Linked DNA regions of Homo sapiens. The protein of the gene in region 3 purifies or fractionates together with the protein of the main gene of each other region. This does not show direct contact. Each region holds a gene or a part of one and is shown on either strand. Other genes may lie near its edges. The genes, in order: MEIS3, MEIS1, PBX4 and ZNF276.

The links.
Region 1: the proteins of PBX4 (region 3) and MEIS3 purify together in Homo sapiens (affinity purification with mass spectrometry; one large-scale study listed by BioGRID and IntAct). This does not show direct contact.
Region 2: the proteins of PBX4 (region 3) and MEIS1 purify together in Homo sapiens (affinity purification with mass spectrometry; one large-scale study listed by BioGRID and IntAct). This does not show direct contact.
Region 4: the proteins of PBX4 (region 3) and ZNF276 purify together in Homo sapiens (affinity purification with mass spectrometry; one large-scale study listed by BioGRID and IntAct). This does not show direct contact.

The regions. Positions count from the first base shown.
Region 1 is NC_000019.10:47,409,473-47,413,041, forward strand, and holds part of MEIS3 (homeobox protein Meis3), read right to left. Parts: intron 76-3,569; coding exon 1-75. UniProt on the Homo sapiens protein: Transcriptional regulator which directly modulates PDPK1 expression, thus promoting survival of pancreatic beta-cells. Also regulates expression of NDFIP1, BNIP3, and CCNG1.
Region 2 is NC_000002.12:66,564,121-66,567,689, reverse strand, and holds part of MEIS1 (homeobox protein Meis1), read right to left. Parts: intron 238-3,569; coding exon 179-237; intron 1-178. UniProt on the Homo sapiens protein: Acts as a transcriptional regulator of PAX6. Acts as a transcriptional activator of PF4 in complex with PBX1 or PBX2. Required for hematopoiesis, megakaryocyte lineage development and vascular patterning.
Region 3 is NC_000019.10:19,612,124-19,615,692, forward strand, and holds part of PBX4 (pre-B-cell leukemia transcription factor 4), read right to left. Parts: intron 1-3,569.
Region 4 is NC_000016.10:89,738,468-89,741,425, reverse strand, and holds the end of ZNF276 (zinc finger protein 276), read right to left. Parts: 3' UTR 2,826-2,958; coding exon of another isoform or gene 2,718-2,825; 3' UTR 2,545-2,717; coding exon of another isoform or gene 2,452-2,544; 3' UTR 2,298-2,451; coding exon of another isoform or gene 2,137-2,297; 3' UTR 1,949-2,136; coding exon of another isoform or gene 1,873-1,948; 3' UTR 1,433-1,872; coding exon of another isoform or gene 1,327-1,432; 3' UTR 623-1,326; coding exon of another isoform or gene 560-622; 3' UTR 501-559; downstream 1-500. Other genes in the region: FANCA (Fanconi anemia group A protein), read left to right, coding at 560-622, 1,327-1,432, 1,873-1,948, 2,137-2,293, 2,452-2,544, 2,718-2,825. UniProt on the Homo sapiens protein: May be involved in transcriptional regulation.

The DNA.
Region 1 (3,569 bases), about 28 Mb from region 3:
GCCCCCACTGGATGGACCTGGGGTCCCCAAATGTACAGACCCACTATCCTCATGGTCTCGAATCCACATATTATTCTAGAAAACAAGAGTTAGAAGTTAGTGCCAAGGCGGCCGGGCGCAGTGGCTCACGCCTGTAATCCCAGCACTTTGGGAGGCCAAGGCAGGCAGATCACAAGGTCAAGAGATCAAGACCATCATGGCTAACATGGTGAAACCCCGTCTCTACTAAAAATACAAAAAATTAGCCGGGTGTGGTGGCATGCACCTGTAGTCCTAGCTACTCAGGAGGCTGAGGCAGGAGAATCGCTTGAACCCGGGAGGCAGAGGTTGCAGTGAGCCGAGATTGCGCCACTGCACTCCAGCCTGGGTGACAGAGCAAGACTCCGTGTCAAAAAAAAAAAAAAAGTTAGTGCCAAGGCTTTGGGCATGGACTCTGGAGCTAGGACTCCTGGATGGGAAGCCAGTCCCTGCCTCCTTCCTAGCTGTGTGATCTTGGGCAGGTCACTTCCCCACTCTGAGCCTCCGTTTCCTTAACTGGAAAATGAAGGACAGGACCAGGCACGGTGGCTCACGCCTGTAATGCCAGCACTTTTGGAGGCTGAGGCAGGCAGATCACCTGAGGTCGGGCATTTGAGACCAGCCTGGCCAACATGGTGAAACCCCATCTCTACTAAAAATACAAAAACCAGGCTGGCTTGGGCACAGTGGCTCACACCTATAATCCCAGCACTTTGGGAGGCCGAGGCAGGCGGATCACCTGAGGTCAGGAGTTGAAGACCAGCCTGGCCGACATGGTGAAACTTTGTCTCTACCAAAAATACAAAAATTAGCTGGGCATGATGGTGGGTTCCTGTAATCCCAGCTACTCGGGAGGCTGAGGCGGGAGAATCGCTTGAACCCGGGAGGGGGAGGTTGCAGTGAGCCAAGATTGTGCCACTGCACTCCAGCCTGGCCGGGGTGACAAAGTGAGACTACGTCTCAAAAAAAAAAAAAAAAGAAAAAGGAAAAGAAGGGCCGGGCGCGATGGCTCATGCCTGTAATCCCATCACTGTGGGAGGCCCAGGCGGGTAGATCACAAGGTCAGGAGATCGAGACCATCCTGGCTAACATGGTGAAACCCCGTCTCTACTAAAAATACAAAAAATTAGCTGGGCGTGGTGGTGGGCGCCTGTAGTCCCAGCTACTCGGGAGGCTGAGGCAGGAGAATGGCATGAACCTGGGAGGCAGAACTTGCAGTGAGCCGAGATCACACCAATGCACTCCAGCCTGGGTGACAGAGTGAGACTCCGTCTCAAAAAAAAGAAAAGGAAAATGAAGGACAATAATAGTCCTGACAGTGTGTGGCCAGTATTCAATGATGAGTTTGTCTACACAGGGGCTCAAACAAGATGACCTTACACAGGTCTATGGCATCTTATCTAAAATCCTTGGGGCAAGAAGTGTCTCAGGATTCCGAACATTTCACATTTTTATCTTTATTTTTAGTCAGTGTCTCACTCTGTCGCCCAGGCTGGAGTGTAGTTGCATGATCTAGGCTCAATGCAGCCTCTGCCTCCCAGGTTCACGTGATTCTCATGCCTCAGTCTCCCGAGTAGCTGGGATTACAGGTGCCTGCCACCACACCTGGCTAATTTTTGTATTTTTAGTAGAGACGGCGTTTCACCACATTGGCCAGGCTGGTCTCGAACTCCTGGGCTCAAGTGATCCACCCACTTCTGCCTCCCAAAGTCTTGGATAACAGGCGTGAGCCACTGCGCCAGGCCCATTTCACATTTCTAGGCAATAAATCAGCGCATACACCATGCAGTTCGCAACCATCCTAGGCAGGGTCTGGGGCACAACCTCGTCATCAAACTCATGAACATTTCCATAGCAACATGGATGAGTATTTAACTAAGTGGAATAAATAAAGGCTATAAATAGCCCCTCATTAGTTCAGGTCAGCTTTTGCTGCCAAATGAGTTTGCACTAAATTTATGGGACAAAATCCAAAACTTTGAAGTTTCAGAGATTCTGGGGTCTCAGAATTGTAGCTAAGGGGGTCTGGGGCTGTATTATCTTTTTCTTTTCTTTTTTTTTTTTTTTTGAGACGGAGTCTCGCCCTGTCCCCCAGGCTGGAGTGCAATGGCATGATCTCAGCTCACTGAAACCTATACCTCCTGGGTTCAGGCGATTCTCCTGCCTCAGCCTCCCGAGTAGCTGGGATTACAGGTGTGTGCCACCATGCCCGGCTAATTTTTTGTATCTCTAGTAGAGATGGGGTTTCACCATGTTGGCCAGGTTGGTCTCAAACTCCTGACCTTGTGATCCACCCCCCTCAGACTCACAAATCGCTGGGATTACAGGTGTGAGCCACCGTGCCCGGCCTTATCTTTTTTTTTTCTTTGAAGAGACAGAGTCTTGCTCTGTCACCTAGGCTGGAGTGCAGTGGTGCAATCTTAGCTCTCTGCAGCTTCAAACTCCTGGGCTTAAGCAATCCTCCCGCCTCAGCCTCCCAAGTAGCTGGAACTACAGTTGCGCCTGGCTAATTTTTCTTATTTTTTGTCGAGATGGGATTTCACAGTTTGTCCAGACTGCTCTCGAACTCCTGGGCTCAAGCAATCCTCCTGCCTCGACTTCCCAAAGTGCTGGGATTACAGCCATGAAGCCACTGCAGCCAGCCTCACAGTTTCTTTATGCAAACTCCAACACACTTTGAGGAACTCAACAATCGGGTAGGATTTACCCTCTACCCAGATCTGTGCCCCAGGAGGTCAGCTCACCCATATGGACTGCAGTAACAGTTCTTTGTTTTTCAGTTTAACGTTGGGTTAAATCTGCCAAGTGGTTTTAGATTAACTGTATTCTTCTACCAAAAATCTTAGCCGCTGTCAAGCAATCTGCTCCTCTCTCCAGTTCTGGTGACCACGCCTCCTCCCACCCTTCTTTTTTTTGAGACAGAGTATCACTCTGTCGCCCAGGCTAGAGTGCAGTGGCGAGATCTCGGCTCACTGCAGCTTCCGCCTCCCGGGTTCAAGTGATTCTCCTGCCTCAGCCTCCCAAGTAGATGGGACTACAGGCGCACGACATAACACCCAGCTAATTTGTTGTTGTTTGTTTGTTTTTTTGAGACAGAGTCTTGCCCTGTCACCCAGGCTGAAGTGCAATAGCGCGATCTTGGCTCACTGCAACCTTCGCCTCCCGGGTTCAAGCAATTCTCCTGCCTCAGCCTCCTGAGTAGCTGGGATCAGAGGTGCGTGCCACCACGCCTGTCTAATTTTTTGTTTTTTTTATGTTTAGTAGAGACGGGGTTTCACCATGTTGGCCTGGCTGGTCTCAAACTCCTGACCTCGTGATCTGCCCACCTCAGCCTCCCAAAGTGCTGGGATTACAGTCGTGAGCCACTGCACCTGGCCTAAGTTTTGTATTTTTAGTAGAGCCGGGTTTTTGCCATGTTGGCCAGGCTGGTCTTGAACTCCTGACCTCAGATGATCTGCTCACCTCGGCCTCCCAAAGTACTGGGATTACAGGCATGAGCCACTGCGCCCAGCCATCACCAGTCTACATTTTCCTTTCTGTGACTGCAGTTT
Region 2 (3,569 bases), on a different chromosome or scaffold from region 3:
TTTTATAATGATGTTAAATTGATTAGTGTTGTTATGAAACGAAACTGGTTTAATTTTAATTGCCAGGCGTTCCTATACTCACTCCCAGTTTATTTACCAGGTAGCGGACCTCCCGGTGAATGGCTTGAGGATGGTTTTCGCTTGCGTGACTTGAATACAGTCACTATGGGGGACTTGCCTGCTCGGTTGGACTGGTCTATCATGGGCTGCACTATTCTTCTCCGGGCATTAATAAACCTGTAACCAAGAAAGTGAAACAAATCGTTATTCCTTAAAAATAAAAGGGGGGGTTGAGGAAGAGGAAAAGATGAATCGCAGTTGGAGTAAAACTAGATCTTGGCAAAATGGGACTCCTTCAGTTCTCTCCATTGCTCTATGTGCAGCCTCACGTGCTGGAAAACCTGTAACCCCCAGTGACCTTTGAGTACACAGGCTTGGGGTTTCTGAGTTGATTTATGTTTGCCTGTTTTACCACAGTTGGACACTTCCATTTCATCTTTTCATGGGGGAATTAGCAGAGTTTTCAGGAAACAATACTAGCCACCACTCCTTTCATTTGCAAAGAGAGAAAATTGGTGTAAAGAGTTAGATGCTCATAAGGGCATCTGTTACCTCTCCTAATTAGTGACATTTCAATCTTATGTTCTCTGACTTCTTTTGTACAATTTTTATCAAAACCACCCCTACCTCTTGCAAACCTAATTCTATTTTAATGCCCACTATTAAGATAATGAACTGGGATGGCAGCACACCATCAAATGAGAGAATGTCTGGAGTTTATCACCACTAACTCACACTGCTTAGGACTTCAGAGAAATGCATTCCTTGTAGAGATTTCTTGGGGTGGCTTTTTTTGTTGTTGTTGTTTTTTTTTTTTTTGCTCTTTATGTAAAGTCTGAGGTCAAGGCAAGGTCACAGATATACAGTAATTGAACTTATAGTTTTGCTTTCTCCAGCTAGTACTGAAAATTTATAAACATCTTATTAAGGCACTTAAGTTACTTTAAGTGCCTTAATAAGATAGTTTTGTACAATTATTTTTGTAGCCTCTCCAAAAGTGACAAGTCACTGACATGTAAAAAAGTATTAATATACGCTCTCCAGAGTCATACGCATGAGATTCTCTTAAGATCCGTTTGTTCTGCATAATATTAAAAATTACGTATCAAATCCAGAAAATGAAGAGGACATATTAGATTCTGAAATAGTAAATTCCTTTTAGTTCCCAACTCAGATCAAATCTGAGCAGGACATAAAAAATACAATGAAAAGTTTAATAAGGCTCTATTAATGATTAAAGGATCCATAGTCCAGTATGAATTCTAGTTTGTAAATCTGCCCACTTCAGGAAGGAAAATAGTTCCTAAAAACCAAACCATTAAACAGACAGGGACAGGTTTTCAAAACAAAAATGCATACTTCATAACATTTTAAGATTCTCAATATCCTGTATCCTTGTGTTCTTTCATTATCTGAGAAGTAATTGAAACAAATAATGAAACTAGAATCTAACTAAAAGGTATACTGTTTGTGCTAATTCTTGTTGGCAATACATATTATATCAGTTCTTGTATATGAAGTCCCTGAACTGCTAATAAAAATATTTAAAACACAGGTCTACAACAAATTGTGTTGCAAATCAGGTTATCATTATCTTGTATAAACCATGAAAACTGGAATCATGTGAGCAGAAGGTTAGATTAATTCTCCATTCTCATTATAAGCACAGGTGTAGCACAAACACCATGTGAAATAACCAATTAAAATGAAAAAAAATCTGTTTTTTCATTAGCTGCCTTCACTGCATGACCAATTAGAAAATTATTTAATATTAATATTCTGCATATACCAAAAGTAATTTTCATAGTAACTAATGTAGGTAAGAGAGCAAAAACATCTCTTTATCTATGGTACTGTTCATTATCTGCAGACTCTTAGAGGGAAGGAATTCTGTCTATTAACTTTCTTTTTCCAGACTTTTTAAAAACATAATCTTTTATGGATGTGACTTATACTACTTACCTAAAAATAGGAAGAGACATTTTTAACAGATGAGAAGCCTGGGCTCAGAGAAATTAGGTGACTTCTTTGAGGTCACATGTTACCAAAGAGATGTTAATAATTTGCTAAATGACACACAGCTGTCAGTGGTAGCAAGCACCCTCCTCCCTGGTGCTCTGGCACAGTGACTAGAGCACCGCAACTATAGTGCCACTCATCTAGAATATCCAGACTAAATAGATATATAAAAATTAGCTGGTTTCAAGCCAATTACCACTGGCAGCAACCCCAGTGTTTAGTCAAGGAAGAAGCATGACTGTGAACATTTTGTAAATTGAAAATTTTGATGGCTGCACTGTTTGTGTGTATAGGCAAAGATAAGGCTATTCAAAGAGAGAGAGAGAGAGTGAATACAGTGACTTGATTTATCTGTATTCCAAAACTTGTCTCCATCATATTCACATATTGAGACTCCCATAAACTAATTCATAATAATCAACTCAGGTTTGAGTCTATGACTATTAAAGTCGTGAGTTCATTTTTAAAAATTACACCTCAGGTTTCAAAAGGGCTGTAATGGTCACTTCGTTTGGTCACTGACATGAATCCCCTATATGATATCTGTCCCCCAAAAGTACATAGGTAACCTCTGCTGAACTAATACAGCACTCACCACCTTACTTAAGAGGCCACCCCATCTATAAACAAGGCTGTTAGAAGGTTCTGCCTTACTAGATCAAAAATATTTATGTTGGTGCAAAAGTAATTGCGGTCTTGCCATTACTTTCAGTGGCAAAAACAACAATTACAGGGGGAGGGGGAAGGGATAGCATTAGGAGATATACCTAATGTAAATGACGAGTTAATGGGGGCAGCACACCAACATGGCACATGTATACATATGTAACAAACCTGCACGTTGTGCACATGTACCCTAGAACTTAAAGTATAATTAAAAAAAAAAAAAACAATTACTTTTGCACCCAACCTAATAGTTTTATCAGCACAACTCCTTGGGGTACTGTAAGCAATTCTAATTTTACTTCCACAGGATAGCCCTTCAAATAGTTAAACATAGCCATTATGCTTTATAGCCTTCTCCCCTCTAATCCTTAGGTTAAACATTAGTGATTCTTAAAAAGTGCCTGCTAGAATGTGAGTCCTTCTAGGATATTGAGTCCATTCAATACCTGGACCACTCTCTGCTCAGTAGGCTGATCTTTGTCTATGTCCTCCTGAAGCCTTGCAGTGGACAACACCAACGACATTTATTCCAGGCCTGCTCTGATCCCCAGGTAGAAAGCAAATACACACAAAAAATACCACAGCCTCTTAGCCAACTGCCCACAGGTACTAGATGTTATTTGCTTCTTTTTGGTGGCAAGAACTGTTTGTTGTTATTAAGAACACAGATGTCAGCTACCCCTAGAATGTGTAGATATCAAAGGGGGAAACCTTTAATTAAAAAATAAAACATAAACAAAAACACTGAAAACCTGAGAAAAACTAATCACCTTTTCTGAGCTGTTTGACCACATTAGTAGGTCTACCTGCAACTTCTTACTTGT
Region 3 (3,569 bases):
GCCGGGCATGGTGGTGCATACCTGTACACACCTGTAATCCCAACTACTCGGGAGGCTGAGGCAGAATTGCTTGAACCCATGAGACGAGGGTTGCAGTGAACTGAGATCGCACCACTGTATCCCAGCGAGGGCAACAGAGTGAGACTCTGTCTCAAGAAAAAAACAAAACAAAACAAAAAACCCAGGTTTGAAGAGAGAGCTATATTTTCCTTCTGAAAACAAACTTACGGCAACAAAACATGTTCAGAGGGCCTCACGACTGAGATGAAAAATTCCTTCTTGCTAAACAGTTGAGTTCAACTGACTGCTGGGGTGATAAAAGGGGTGACTGGCACATTGAGAGTGGGCAGGATCAGAAAGATTTTCAAAAGCCTCACAGGATCAGTTGATCAGAAGAGACAATCTGCTTCCCAGCCCAGGTTGGTAATCTACCAGGCTGCAGGGTTTACTGTGAGGAGCTGTATTTCCTCCAGAGGGGTGGAAATAGCCCATTTGAGGATGGATGATTTTTGTCTGGACTTGAGTGAACTTTAGGGCTTTGAGTTCATCTAAAGGCTAGGTCCAAAGAAATGAGGGAGATTTGAAGCTTCAAAGTCTCGAAATAAAAGCCCCGGGGGTCATCCCAATTCAGAAAGAGGCCAGAAACCAGGAACCAGCTACCTAACACCTGTGTTATCAAGCATGAATAACGCCCCCCACCACACCATTTAATTTCTTTTTTTTTTTTCTCTGTCATCCAGGCTGGAGTGCAGTGGCACGATCTCGGCTCACTGCAACCTCCGTCTCCAGGGTTCAATCGGTTCTCCTGCCTCAGCCTCCTCAGTAGCTGACACATACTACAGGTGGGCATCATCATGCCCAGCTAATTTTTGTATTTTTAGTAGAGGTGGGGTTTCTCCACGTTGCACAGGCTGGTCTCGAAGTCCTGAGCTCAGGTGATCCTCCTGCCTCGGCCTCCCAAAGTGCTGGGATTACAGGCGTGAGCCACTGCACCCAGCCTAATTTCTTAGCCTTAAAACAAAAAGAGCTATCTTTGAAAATGGTAAAGAAGTAACTGGCTGGCAGGGCGTGGTGGTTTATGCCTGTAATCCCAGCACTTTGGGAGGCCGAGGTGGGAGGATCACCTGAGGTCAGGAGTTTGAGAGCAGCCTGGCCAACATGGCAAAACCCCGTCTCTACTAAAAAAATACCAAAATTAGCCGGGCGTGGTGGCAGGCGCCTGTAATCTTAGCTACTCGGGAGGCTGAGGCAGGAGAATCTCTTGAACCCAGGAGGCAGAAGTTGCAGTGAGCCAAGAACACGCCAGAGCGAGACTCTGTCTCAAAAAAAAAAAAAAAAAAAAAAAAAAAAGTAACTGGCTGCATTCCATTCTAAATCTAAAGCCTGTCTAGGGAAACTAGAATCTCAGGAGATTGCTGCAAGGAAAATGCAGCAGCCCTGGGGCTGTGCTGGGCCTGAGGAAGGCCACATCTGAGCAGAGCTCACCCCTTAAGCAGCAATATCCCGGTCTGGAAAGTACAAAAGTAGCTTCCAGGACACACCCAAAGCTCTGCCTCTGCGGTGACATTCCTGGGTGTGTCAAAACCATCTTCCCCCTTTCCCAACTCCTACTAATCCCTCTAGAATCTCCTCAGTGTCATGAAACTACTGAATGCAAGGTGCTAGGCATTGATCCTGGCTCTGGGAACACAAAGTATAATAAAGCCACTGCTCTCCGACTAGCCTAACAGACATCACGGAAGGCACCCTCTCCTGGCACAGCTCTTCTGTGCTAGGAATTACCTCTACACAGCACATTCCTGTTATAACAATTATTTACAAGTTGGTCTCCCACACACCCTACTTCTCAGTGGGCTCCAAGAAGGCAGAGAACATCTTAGCCATCTTGGTTTCTCTAGCACCTGGTACAATGCTCCAAAAAGAATAAAAACACTGGTTCACGTCTGTCATCCCAGCACTCTGGGAGGCCAAGATGGGTGAATCACTTGAGCTCAGGAGTTCAAGACCAGCCTGGACAACATGGTGAAACCCCATCTCCACAAAAAATACAAAAATTAGCCAGCCATTCATTGGTGGTTTGAGGCTGTAGTCCCAGCTACTTGGGAGACTGAGGCTGGAGAATCACTTGAACCTGGGAAGCAGAGGTTGTAGTGAGTTGAGATCATACCACAGCACTCCAGCCTGGGTGACAGAATAAGACCCTGTCTCAAAAACAAACAAACAAACATGGCCCGGCGCAGTGGCTCACGCCTGTAATCCCAACACTTTGAGAGGCCAAGGCGGGTAGATCATCTGAGGTCGGGAGTTTGAGACCAGCCTGGCCAACATGGTGAAACCCCATCTCTATTAAAAATACAAAAAACTAGCCAGGTGTGGTGGTGCACACCTGTAATCCCAGCTACTTGGGAAACTGAGATGGGAGAATCACTTGAACCCGGGAGGCGGAGGTTGCTCACTAGCCGAGATCGCGCCACTGCACTCCAGCCTGATCGCGCCACTGCACTCCAGCCTGGACAACAGAGTATGAGACTCCGTCTCAAAAAAACCCAAACCAAACCAAAAAACAGCCAAACAAACAAACAAAAACAAACAAACAAACAAAAAACCACAATGAAAACAGTTGGAGGAGCCAGGCTCAGTGGCTCATGTTTGAAATCCTCGACCTTTGGAAGGCTGAGGCGGGAGGATTTCTTAACTCAGGAGTTTGAGACCAGCCTGGCCAACATAGGGAGACCTAAAAAAATAGAAAGATTAGTCCAGGTGTGGTGGCTCAGGGCTGTAATCCCAGCACTTTGGGAGGCCGAGGTGGGTGGATCATTTGAGGTCAGGAGTTCAACACCAGCCTAGCCAATACGGTGAAACCCTGTCTCTACTAAAAATACAAAAAAAAATTAGCCAGGCGGTAGTGGCACACGCCTGTAATCCCAGCTACTCAGGAGGCTGAGGCAGGAGAATTGCTTGAGCCTGGGAGGCAGAGGTTGCAGTGAGCTGAGACTGCACCACTGCACTCCAGTCTGGGTGACAGAGTGAGACCCTGTCTCCAAAAAAAAAAAAAAAAAAAAAAAAAAGAAAGATTAGCCAGGCGTGGTGGCACAGGCCTGTGGTCCTAGCTACTCAAGAAGCTGAGGTGTGAAGATTGCTTGGGCCCAGAAGGTTGAGGCTGCAGTGAGTCATGATGACACTACTGCACTCTAGCCTGGGTGACAGAGCGCGGCCTTATATAAAAAAAAAAAAGCCAAAGAAATAGTTGTATGGTGACAAGGACTCTAATTTCTCAAACAGAGCATCTGAAACTACAAAAAGTGTCAACATTCCCTGAGAAGCAAAGGAAAGAAAGTTTGAAGAACAAATTTACTTTCTCTCCCCAAACCATGAACTTGAGAGCAGGAAGAACTTGAGAGCTATGCCAGAACCCAGTTCAGTACCCAGATATTGTAAAGGTCCGATAAATATCGGCCAAATTTGTTAAAAATTCATTGAAGAACAGGCCAGGCACAGTAGTTCACGCCTGTAATCCCAGCACTTTGGGAGGCTGAGGTAGGCAGATCACCTAAGGTCAGGAATTTGTG
Region 4 (2,958 bases), on a different chromosome or scaffold from region 3:
AGCTGGATCGACAGCAGCGCCCAGGGTTTTGGTGATTATAACCACCCTGCAGGGGTTCTTCTGAGTACGTCTTCAGGTTTCTTGTGTAGTTTTGTTAGAAGGGATTTTAGTGGCTCCAGGGCCTTAGGACCCTAGTGTGCAGCGAGGAGTGTCCACAGAGACCCTGCCCAGTCAGGCCCTACTTTAGGCTGGAGCCTGTGGGCTTATCTTCAAGGATTTTACAAACACTTCTGACAGGAGGCCTTGCAGGGAGATGATGCTGAGTTGGGACTGCGCACAGCCAAGGAGACCGCAGCAGTCTTCTCTTTCTGGCTCTTGTCACTTTTTCAAACTGTTTCTAGCTTTGTTTAAAGGCAAGTGTGAAATGACCCAGCCAGTAGTAATTAATTCTCAATTAAGCTGTCTCTCTAGAAGTGATTGGAAAGTTTTCTAAGATCCACTTAAAGGATTTATGGCCTAGATGTAAAAAATTTCAATTAAAGAGGAATGTGTCAGCCTTATTTAGAATGACAGCACAGGTAATTTTAATGTAATAATAAGTGCACGTTTTTATTTACAGCTATTGGTTTTCCTTTTCTTCTTCTCCTTGATGGGCCTGCTGTCGTCACATCTGACCTCAAATGTAAGTCAGACCTTACCAGCCAAGGTGTCCTCTCCCACTGTGGGCCAGGCAGGGGCACCAGGCAGCCAGCTTCCAAGTCAGGGTTTCCAGACTAGCTCAGGAGCTCCTTGTGTTTGCGGAAGTGTGAGTGAGAACTCCCAGGCCGTGGGTTTTTTTTTTTTTTTTTTGAGATGGGGGTCTCACTCTGTCACCCAGGCTGGAGTGCAGTGGTGTGATCTCAGCTCACTGCAACCTCAGCCTCCTGGGTTCAAGCAATTCTCCTGCATCAGCCTCCCGAGTAGCTGGGATTACAGGCGTGAGTCTGTCACACCCGGCTAATTTTTGTATTTTTAGTAGAGACGGGGTTTCACCATATTGCCAGGCTGGTCTTGAACTGGCCTCAGTGATCCGCCGACCTCGGCCTCCCAAAGTGTTGGGATTACAGGCATGAGCCACTGCATCCGGCCTGTGGGCCTTTCTTTTAATGTCTTATTTGAGGACGTGGTGCAGCAGCCTTGGTGTGGGTGCTCGAAGTCCCTGGCCTCCTACCTGAGCCTCTTCTGTCCAGAGGCCCAGTATTACCTTCTATAGGTAAAACTGTCACCAGTTTTAAGACTTACAATAAGCAAAGAGGAAATGCCCTCTTCTGTGCTGAGGGCTGTACCCTCCTACCCATGGGAGCACCAGGTCGGCCATTCTCAGGGTTGGTCTCCTGCGGTTTACAGAGCACCACAGACCTGCCAAAGGCTTTCCACGTTTGTGCAGCAATCCTCGAGTGTTTAGAGAAGAGGAAGATATCCTGGCTGGCACTCTTTCAGTTGACAGAGAGTGGTAAGAAACACGCTGCTGAGGCACAAATGCGGAGGGCCGCTCTTTTCAGAGGCATCTTGCAAATGGTTAAGAACGAGCCCTCCTTGAGGTTCCTTGCTAAGTAAGTTTATAAGCTCCATTTTAGTTGGGACAGATTAAGCACAAACTTGTTTAAAGCAATAAGATAATTTACTGGCTCACTGGTCAACCCCAGGACCAATGGGCCTATCATGGGGACTGCCTCTCTCTGCACCACACCCACCCTCCTGCAAGAGGTCGACCCCCCCATCCTCTCCCAGCTGCTGACAGGTACCTGGGTATCCTCAGCTCAGGCTGTTCGCCCCACACTATCCCCACAGCCAGGCCTCCCAGGGTACACGTCCCGACCCCCAGGGGTGTCCCCAGCACTGATAATAGGCAGAGATGTCCAGAGTTGCCTGAGCCACTTCTTGGTGTTGCAGACCTCAGGCTGGGGCGGCTCCTCCTCCGTGTGGCCCCGGATCAGCACACCAGGCTGCTGCCTTTCGCTTTTTACAGGTACCTCCACCCACAGGGCTGGTCAGGGCTGGGCAGTGTTTCCCAGACCCCCATCTCAGCACCTCTGGGTCCCGCCAGATGGGAAGGGTTGTCTGTGCCTCTGCTCCACAGATGAGCAGTATCCCTTGGCATCACCTGCTACCTTTCCAGCAGTCTGTAGCCATTTGTCACTATGTCTTTACCTCTAGTCTTCTCTCCTACTTCCATGAAGACGCGGCCATCAGGGAAGAGGCCTTCCTGCATGTTGCTGTGGACATGTACTTGAAGCTGGTCCAGCTCTTCGTGGCTGGGGATACAAGCACAGTTTCACCTCCAGCTGGCAGGAGCCTGGAGCTCAAGGGTCAGGCAGGTGCAAGGGCCAGTCCCACCTCCAGGGGAGCTCCCCCCAGCCGGAGGCTCCTTCTGCCAAAGAATGTTCCGGCACAGCATGCAGACTATGGGGGACACACCAGCCCTGTTTCTGTATGTCTTCTAACCTGTGAGTTTGCCTGTTTTCTCTCTAGGGCAACCCCGTGGAACTGATAACAAAAGCTCGTCTTTTTCTGCTGCAGTTAATACCTCGGTGCCCGAAAAAGAGCTTCTCACACGTGGCAGAGGTAACGTCAAGATGCCCACCTTGGGCCATGTGGGGGACATGAGAATTGACAGCTGCCTGGGCCATGTGCCTGCCTGGCTGGCAATACAACTCGACTATTTCTGCCAGAGCCCCTCCCCTGTGGTCTGAGGCCTAGTGGGCGGCATGGGCTGAGGACCTGCTCCTCTCTCACAGCTGCTGGCTGATCGTGGGGACTGCGACCCAGAGGTGAGCGCCGCCCTCCAGAGCAGACAGCAGGCTGCCCCTGACGCTGACCTGTCCCAGGAGCCTCATCTCTTCTGACGGGACCTGCCACTGCACACCAGCCCAGCTCCCGTGTAAATAATTTATTACAAGCATAACATGGAGCTCTTGTTGCACTAAAAAGTGGATTACAAATCTCCTCGACTGCTTTAGTGGGGAAAGGAATCAATTA